Linked DNA regions of Homo sapiens. The protein of the gene in region 2 purifies or fractionates together with the protein of the main gene of each other region. This does not show direct contact. Each region holds a gene or a part of one and is shown on either strand. Other genes may lie near its edges.

The links.
Region 1: the proteins of TCN2 (region 2) and POGLUT1 purify together in Homo sapiens (affinity purification with mass spectrometry; one large-scale study listed by BioGRID and IntAct). This does not show direct contact.

The regions. Positions count from the first base shown.
Region 1 is NC_000003.12:119,485,899-119,489,716, reverse strand, and holds part of POGLUT1 (protein O-glucosyltransferase 1 precursor), read right to left. Parts: intron 2,885-3,818; coding exon 2,785-2,884; intron 789-2,784; coding exon 730-788; intron 1-729. UniProt on the Homo sapiens protein: Dual specificity glycosyltransferase that catalyzes the transfer of glucose and xylose from UDP-glucose and UDP-xylose, respectively, to a serine residue found in the consensus sequence of C-X-S-X-P-C.
Region 2 is NC_000022.11:30,623,940-30,627,855, reverse strand, and holds the end of TCN2 (transcobalamin-2 isoform 1 precursor), read right to left. Parts: intron 1,397-3,916; coding exon 1,335-1,396; 3' UTR 585-1,334; downstream 1-584. UniProt on the Homo sapiens protein: Primary vitamin B12-binding and transport protein. Delivers cobalamin to cells.

The DNA.
Region 1 (3,818 bases), on a different chromosome or scaffold from region 2:
GCAGGGGGTTGGGGACCCCTGGTGTAGAGAGGAGAATGAGGAAAACCTAATCAATTTTCAGAGATTGCCCACAGGGGAAAAAAAAAAAACAAAAAAAGCTGTCTTCTTCTCAGCATTTCTTATGCACGCACCTGTCGCCAACCAGAGTTGCTTTCACCATATAGCTCCTACTCTGCGTGTCATTAGCACTCCTAACTCTGAGCCACCCCCACCACCACTGCCCTCCTCTAGACCTGGTTTTACCTGTTCATCTAATTCTTAGTCCCAGAATTTTATTTTATTTCTCTTAGAGACAGGGTCTCACTATGTAGCCCAGGCTGGTCTTGAACTCTTGGGCTCAAAGGATCCTCCTACCTCAGCCTCCCGAGTAGCTAAGACTACAGGAGCATGCCAGCACACCAGGATAATAATTCTAATATTTATTAACTGAGAAATATTTATTCTAACTTCAATGATTGGGTGGGTGGGGCATATGGAGAGGTAATTCCATTACTGTGATTACTAGCTAGCATGCAGCTGTTTGGAAGCAGGAACCATGTTCCATTCTTCTCTACAGTCGCCACAGAACTCAGGTCAGTGCATTTAGGCCCTGAGGAAAAGCCAGTGAAATGAATTAATGCAACTTTCATTTACTCCAGCTGGGCCTTTATATTAAAGTTCTCACCCAAAGTGAAGCTATTTCAAAAGCAGTATGGAAACCAAGAAAGTGAGGAGTCCTGCAAATCTTACTTGTATTTGCAGTGATCCACAAGATGGACATCCTTAGCAGCTGGCTTTCCTAAGGTATCCTTTAAGTGGAAAGGAAGTTATTAGTATTAACAGCAACAGCATTTATTGTGATCACTGTGCAGCAAGCATTGTTAAACATTTCATCAACATTACCTCATTTAAGCTTCATAATCAATATACTCAGGAGACATTATTATTCCCATTATATAAATGCAGAAGCCAAGGCTTTGGAAGTTGAGATTTGCTCAAGGTCAGTGTGGCTCTAAATAGAAGACAGAGTTTTAACCAGGGCCCGTCTGATTTTAAAGTTTAAGCACACCTAAAGCCATGTTGCCCTCCTTTGAATTCAGATGTCACAGCCTGCAGCACACTTCACTCTGTGTAAATAATGTATGCAGAGAAGGTCCCAAGTGCTGGCTGATGGCCTTAGGGGTGTATATAGCCCATGCTCAAATTTTGTTGGGCATGCAAAGTATTTTTTTTTTTAAATCAAATCATTGCCAACATTTACAGGTGGTAGGATATTTCTTGCAAAAATCCAGATTTCCAGTCTTTCTTGGAGAATAAAAAGGAAGATCTGGCAAACTGGGCTCTTATTAACATTTGGAACTGTTAGTATTCTCTCTTGCTCACCTCTTGACATCACCTGCTGGCCCCTGGGGACATCTGAGTTTGACATCCCCAGGTACATTCCATCCACCTTAGCAGATGGTAAACTCCTTGATGAGGGGACAAGTTTTGTTTGCTTCTGCAGCCTCCCACAGTAGATGCTAACAACTTTTGTTCTAAATGAACACATTTTTTCATATTTTTATTATTCAACAAAGTTTCTTAAGCTCACTTGCTCCTGATTAAAACTGTATGAAATAATACATGCACCTCAGATTTACTTAGTTTTCTCCCAAGAAGTCTAAAGCTTTTCCTCATAGCATCCTCATATGGTATATGGAAATTTCATATAAAGGAAGTTTAGGGCTTTAATTTCTTTGATTAAGGCAAAAAGCCATAGAGTTAAGAGGAGAGAGTGGACTGTAAACCAACGGTCCCATTTCTGGCTTCACCTTAGAATCACTTGAAAAGTTTTAAACAAATGAAGATTCCTGGACACCATTCCCAGAGATTCTGACTCATTTGATTCATTTTCTTAAGCTCTCTGGTTGTATTGCACAGCCAGGGTTGAGACCATTGATTTAAACCAGGGGTTGGCAAACTACGACCCACAGGCCAAATTTGACCCACTGCTTGTTTTTGTCATGGACTAAGAAATTTTTACATTTCAAATGGTTAAAAAAAAAGGCAAAAGAATAATATTTTATGACAACTTAAAATTACATGAAATTCAAATTTCAGTGCCCATAAAGTTTTTATTTTTTATTATTTTTATTTTTATTTACTTATTTTTGAGACGGAGTCTTGCTCTGTCGCCAGGCTGGAGTGCAATGGCGTGATCTCGGCTCACTGCAATCTCTGCCTCCCAGGTTCAAGCGATTCTCCTGCCTCAGCCTCCCCAGTAGCTGGGACTACCGGCACATACCACCATGCCCGGCTAATTTTTGTGTTTTTAGTAGAGACGGGGTTTCACCATGTTGGCCAGGCTGGTCTTGAACTCCTGACCTCAAGTGATCCACCCGCCTCGCCTCCCAAAGTGCTAGGATTACAGGCATGAGCCACCATGCCTGGCCGTAATAAAGTTTTAATAAAAACACTGCCAGGCTCATTCATTTACAAACTGCCCATGTCTGTTGGCAACTGCAATAGAGACCATACGACCTGCAAAACCTACAACATTTACTATTTGGCCCTTCCTGGAAAAAGTTTGTGACCCCTGGTTTAAACCTTCAAAGTAGTGCAATATACTAGTCATAATATGGCCAGAAAAGCAATGTAAGTTTGAAAAAGGAGAATTTACATATATGCTAATGCTGGTTCATGGAACTTTCTTTACATTCACCTCACCACTGACAGGAAACCTAATCTCAAATTCTACCCAGGTGGCAATGTTCTTTGAGTGAGAATGTTCACTGCTGTAGTTCTAGTCAGATGACTGGTGATTACTTTCATAGATTTCCAGGCCTGGTTTTTGGTGTATTCTGCATCAACAAGTTTTGGGTTTTTCCGAGACAGAAGAATGAGAGGATCTCGTTCTGGACTTGTCCTATAAAAGAAACACGTGACATAAAACTGTGTGGCCTGTATTAGAAAACTGTTCCCAATCCCTGAAAGGTGAGCAGGACTAGGACCCAATGCAATGACTCTGCACAAGTGGACAATTCACTGGTGACGTGACAGCGGAGGAGGGGTATACTGGGTACTGCAGCATCTAGGTCATCCAGGGCTGGTCCCCTCTGTACCTTTAGGGTTGGGGGGTACTTGGCCCTTCTTTGCTTGCATTTGGTCTTGAAGGGTATGTTGTTCAGGTCACTATAGTCAAATCCCAGGGAATGATTTCCCTTTTAGGAAAGTTCATGTGGCTTCTATAATCACTGGTGCTCATAACTGTGAGGCTAGGTAGTCACGACTCACTAAAACAGCTACATGACCTTTGTTATGTATGCTCTGTACAGCCCAGTATAATATTTAATTTAAAAAAAATGCACAAAAACCAAAGGGCTTAAAAACCTGACGACTGTATGTGGAAGAATTTCTAGTGATGTTCCAAGTAGCAGAGGGTCTTGACATGTGAGGCATCATGGATTCCTTGATAATCTGTTAAGAACTATGAACCAACCCTCTCTCCTTCCCAGAAAAATGCACATATCCTCACATAATTTCAAGGGAGTCCTAAAACTCTTGAAGTCCAGACATGGTCCCCAAGTTAATTTGTGACTTCAAGATTTAAGAATCAGAGAAGTTGGTAAGAAACAGGACATAGTAGCTGGATAATCCATTTACCTCCTAAAGTCTAGCTCCGAAGTGAAGAGGAGGGTGAAGAGGGAGTATAATCTCTGGCAAGGACTCACTTGCTAAAACTACAAAACCCTGCTCCCTTCATGGTCTTTTCTATTCATCTGCTCCACAGATATTTATCATATATTGACATGCTAGGAACTGTTCTTGGCCTTGGGACTATGGAGCTGAACAACACAGGG
Region 2 (3,916 bases):
GGGAGTGAGACCCTAGCTTCTGGGTCCCAGGGCTCCAGTTGAGTTGGGGCTCTGCCATACGATTATAACCATCATCGAAGCCCCTCATTTTCAGTATTTTAGTGGAGGAGCTGCAAGGCTGCCCCAGGCCAGGTCTGTGTCCCCTGAGCCAGGTTCCCCCAGCATCACTGCCTAGTCTGTGACCTTGGTGAGTCACTTTTCCTTTTTGAGCACCAGTTTCCTGATTTTTTTTTTTTTTTGAGAGTGTTTCTCTTCTTGCCCAAGCTGGAGTGCAATGGCGTGATCTCGGCTCACTACAACCTCCGCCTCCAGGGTTCAAGCAATTCTCCTGCCTCAGCTTCCCAAGTAACTGGGATTACAGGCATGCAGGCATGCAACACCATGCCTGGCTAATTTTTTGTATTTTTAGTAAAGATGGAGTTTCACCATGTTGGCCAGGCTGATCTCAAACTCCTGACCTTGTGATCCACCTGCCTTGGCCTCCTAAAGTGCTGGGATTACAGGCGTGAGCCACCATGCCCGGCCTCCCAGTTTCCTGATTTGTAAAGCACAGATAAAAATGAAAATATCAACAACCTCACAGAGCAGTTCAAGATAGTATCTAGCGAGTGAGTGCTCAGTCATAGTAGTGGGTGCTCAGTCAGTAGTCAATGTCATCACTGCTGGCATTCCCATCACTCCCCCAATGCCCACATGGCGGCTCAGGCACCCTCCACTCCTCCCTGATGGGGTTACTTCCCCCTTCTCTTGTCCCTGCCCCTGCACCTGAGGAGTATGAGGCACCAGGCCACTGTAGCAGGTCCACAGGCCATCAATGCTTTAATTTTGTCAGAGGCAGGCACTGAGCAGCCCTGCTGAGGTCTCCCCAGCTACTGTGCCACAACCAGCTCGGAGCTGCCACTCTAACAGCAGAGTGGAGAGCTGGGGTCAGGGCCATAGCCCCCGGGCTGAGGAGGCCTTCTTGCAGGACCCCAACCACAGAACGAGTGGTCTTCACAACACCTGCGGCCTGCGGACTCCGTTTTTTGCCAAGGAGTCTGAGATGCTTCATGCCCATCAGACCATGGGGTGGCCTTCATGGGAGACCTGCAGGGCCAGGCTGGCCAGACTTGGCCAGAAAGACTTCCCAGGGAAGATGCTTGGCTCTCTGCTCCAAGGTGGGCCATGGTATAGGGCCCTCGAAGGGCTTGTGGCTGGGGTGATCCCAGGGGGCATTGCTCAAAGTGCACAGGAGGTGGCAGCAGGGTCAGGCGAGTTCCTGTTCCAGGGACATCAGGAGGGAGGGTAGAAGCCTAGGGAGTGTGCGAGGCTGCTGGGATGAGGGAGCTCAGGGGCTACCAGCTAACCAGCCTCAGCTCAATGGTTTCTCCATCCTTGGGTCTGTAGTCAGCAATACCTGCAGAAACAGATTGAGCAAGGAGGGGCGAATTGGGCAGAATATCGCACCCCGCAACCTCATCTTCCAGACCCCCCACCCTGAGGCTAGAGTCTGTAAGAATCCACCTGGGGCTTGGTGGTGGGAAGCTGGAACCTCCCTAAAGCCTGCTCAAAGACTCTGAACTCAGCTTCCCACAGGGTTCCTGAGGCCATGACCTCATCTGGTAATAAAAACACCTGACAGGCAGGGCCACTGTCTTTGTAATACCCTAGGGACCATCAGGAAGAGAAACTTGCGCAGTGCAGTCTGGAGAGAGAACCAGGACCACGCAGAAGTCTCCCAGGAGTCAGCTTTCACTCACTACACAGAATCCAGGCTCTAGGAGGACGCCTGGATTCAAGCCCCAGCTCTGTCATTCATTACTGCTGTGACTCTGGACAAGTTATTTAACCTCTGAGTGAGTGTCGCTGCTCTTGTTGGTGATGTGGGAATGCAGCCTGCAGGGGAACTGAAAGGGCCCTTTGAGATAGCCAGGTGTCAGAAATGTTTCCTTTCAATGGAGGTGCTATGGTCTAAAATGTCTGTGTCCCCCCAAAATGTATATGTTAAAACCTAACCCCAAAGGTGATGGTATCAGGAGGCCTTAGGGCCTTTGGGAGATGATTAGGTCATGAGAGTAGAGCCTCATCAATGGGATAGGAAAGTGCCATTATAGGCCGAGCAGGGTGGCTCATACCTAGAATCCCAGCACTTTGGGAGGCCAAGGCAGGCAGATCACTTGAGTTCAGAAGTTCGAGACCAGCCTATGCAACATGGTGAAACCACATTTCTACTAAAAATACAAAAAATTAGCTGGGCTTTGTGCCATGGGCCTATGGTCACACGTACTCAGGAGGCTGAGGTGGGAGGATCGCTTAAGCCAGGGAGGCAGAGGTTGCAGTGAGCTGAGATTGTGATACTGCACTCAGCGTGGGTGACAGAGTGAGACCCCCATCTCAAAAAAAAAAATTTTTAAGTACCATTATAAAAGAGGTTCCTTCAGCAGGCAAGGGCCAGGAAAATATTTTTTTTTTTTAAATTAAAAAACAAGGCCCCAGAAAGTTGCCATGTTCCTTCCACCATGTGAGAACACAGCCAGCAGGTAACACCAGAAAGTGGGCCCCCATCAGACACTGAATCTGTCAGTGTCCTGATCTGGGACTGCCCACCCAACCTCCAGAACTGTTAAGAAATACATTTCTGTTATTTTATTTCATTTTGAGATGGAGTTTCACTCTTGTTGCCCAGGCTGAAATGCAATGGCGTGATCTCAGCTCACGGCAACCTCCGCCTCCTGGGTTCAAGCGATTCTCCTGCCTCAGCCTCCTGAGTAGCTGGGATTACAGGTGCCCGCCACCACCCCCAGCTAATTTTTTGTATTTTTAGTAGAGACAGGGTTTCACCATGTTGGTCAGGCTAGTCTTGAACTACTGATCTCAGGTGATCCACCTGCCTTGGCCTCCCAAAGTGCTGGAATTATAGGCATGAGCCACCGCACCCGGCCTCATTTCTGCTGTTTATAAGCCACCCAGTTTATGGTATTTTGTAATAGCAGCTTCAATGGACTAAGACAAAAGAGAACTCAAATTATAACTCCCATCCACTTTCCACCCCAAGGAAGATAGAGGAGTGATTTATGCAACTGGTTGATTTGGGAAGAATAAACTAGGCATGTGTAGCCTGGGCGCTATTTTTCTCCTGGGAGCGGGCTTCCTTCTAGACTCAAGGGCAGAGGGGGAAGGAGATAGAGGCTACAACTGCCCAGGTCTGCTTCCTGGCTGGGTCCACCTAGCTCTCACCCTCCTGTCTTTATCAGTAATAGAACTGGCCAGACTTGGGGTCTCCATCTGTAGCTCCTATTTTTTATTCCTCAATTTATTCAGAATGAGGGCAAGAAAAGAATGCTTTTTTGTGGGCTCCCTCAGAAAGTCCCACCTTCTCTATAAGCACTCGCCACAATGCTTGACACATGGTAAGTGCCCCATAAAAGTTCTTCAGGGGTGGAGTATCAAAGCAACTTAAATAACAAGAGTAGGAACAGATGACTTTTAAGGGTCTGTTTGCAGGCCAGGCGTGGTGGCTCACGCCTGTAATCCCAGCACTTTGGGAGGCTGAGGCAGGCAGATCACTTGAGGTCAGGAGTTTGAGACCAGCCTGGCCAACATGGTGAAACCCCGTCTCTACTAAAAATACAAAAATAACTGGGCATGGTGGCACACACCTGTAATCCCAGCTACTTGGGAGGCTGAGGCAGGAGAATTGCTTGAGCTCAGAAGGCAGAGGCTGCAGTGAGCTGAGACCTCGCCATTGTACTCCGGCCTGGGCAACAGAGCAAGACTCCATCTCAAAAAAAAAAAATATATATATATATATATATGTGTGTGTGTGTGTGTGTATATATGTATACATATATATGTGTGTATATATGTATACATATATATGTGTGTATATATGTATACATATATATGTGTGTGTATATATGTATACATATGTGTGTGT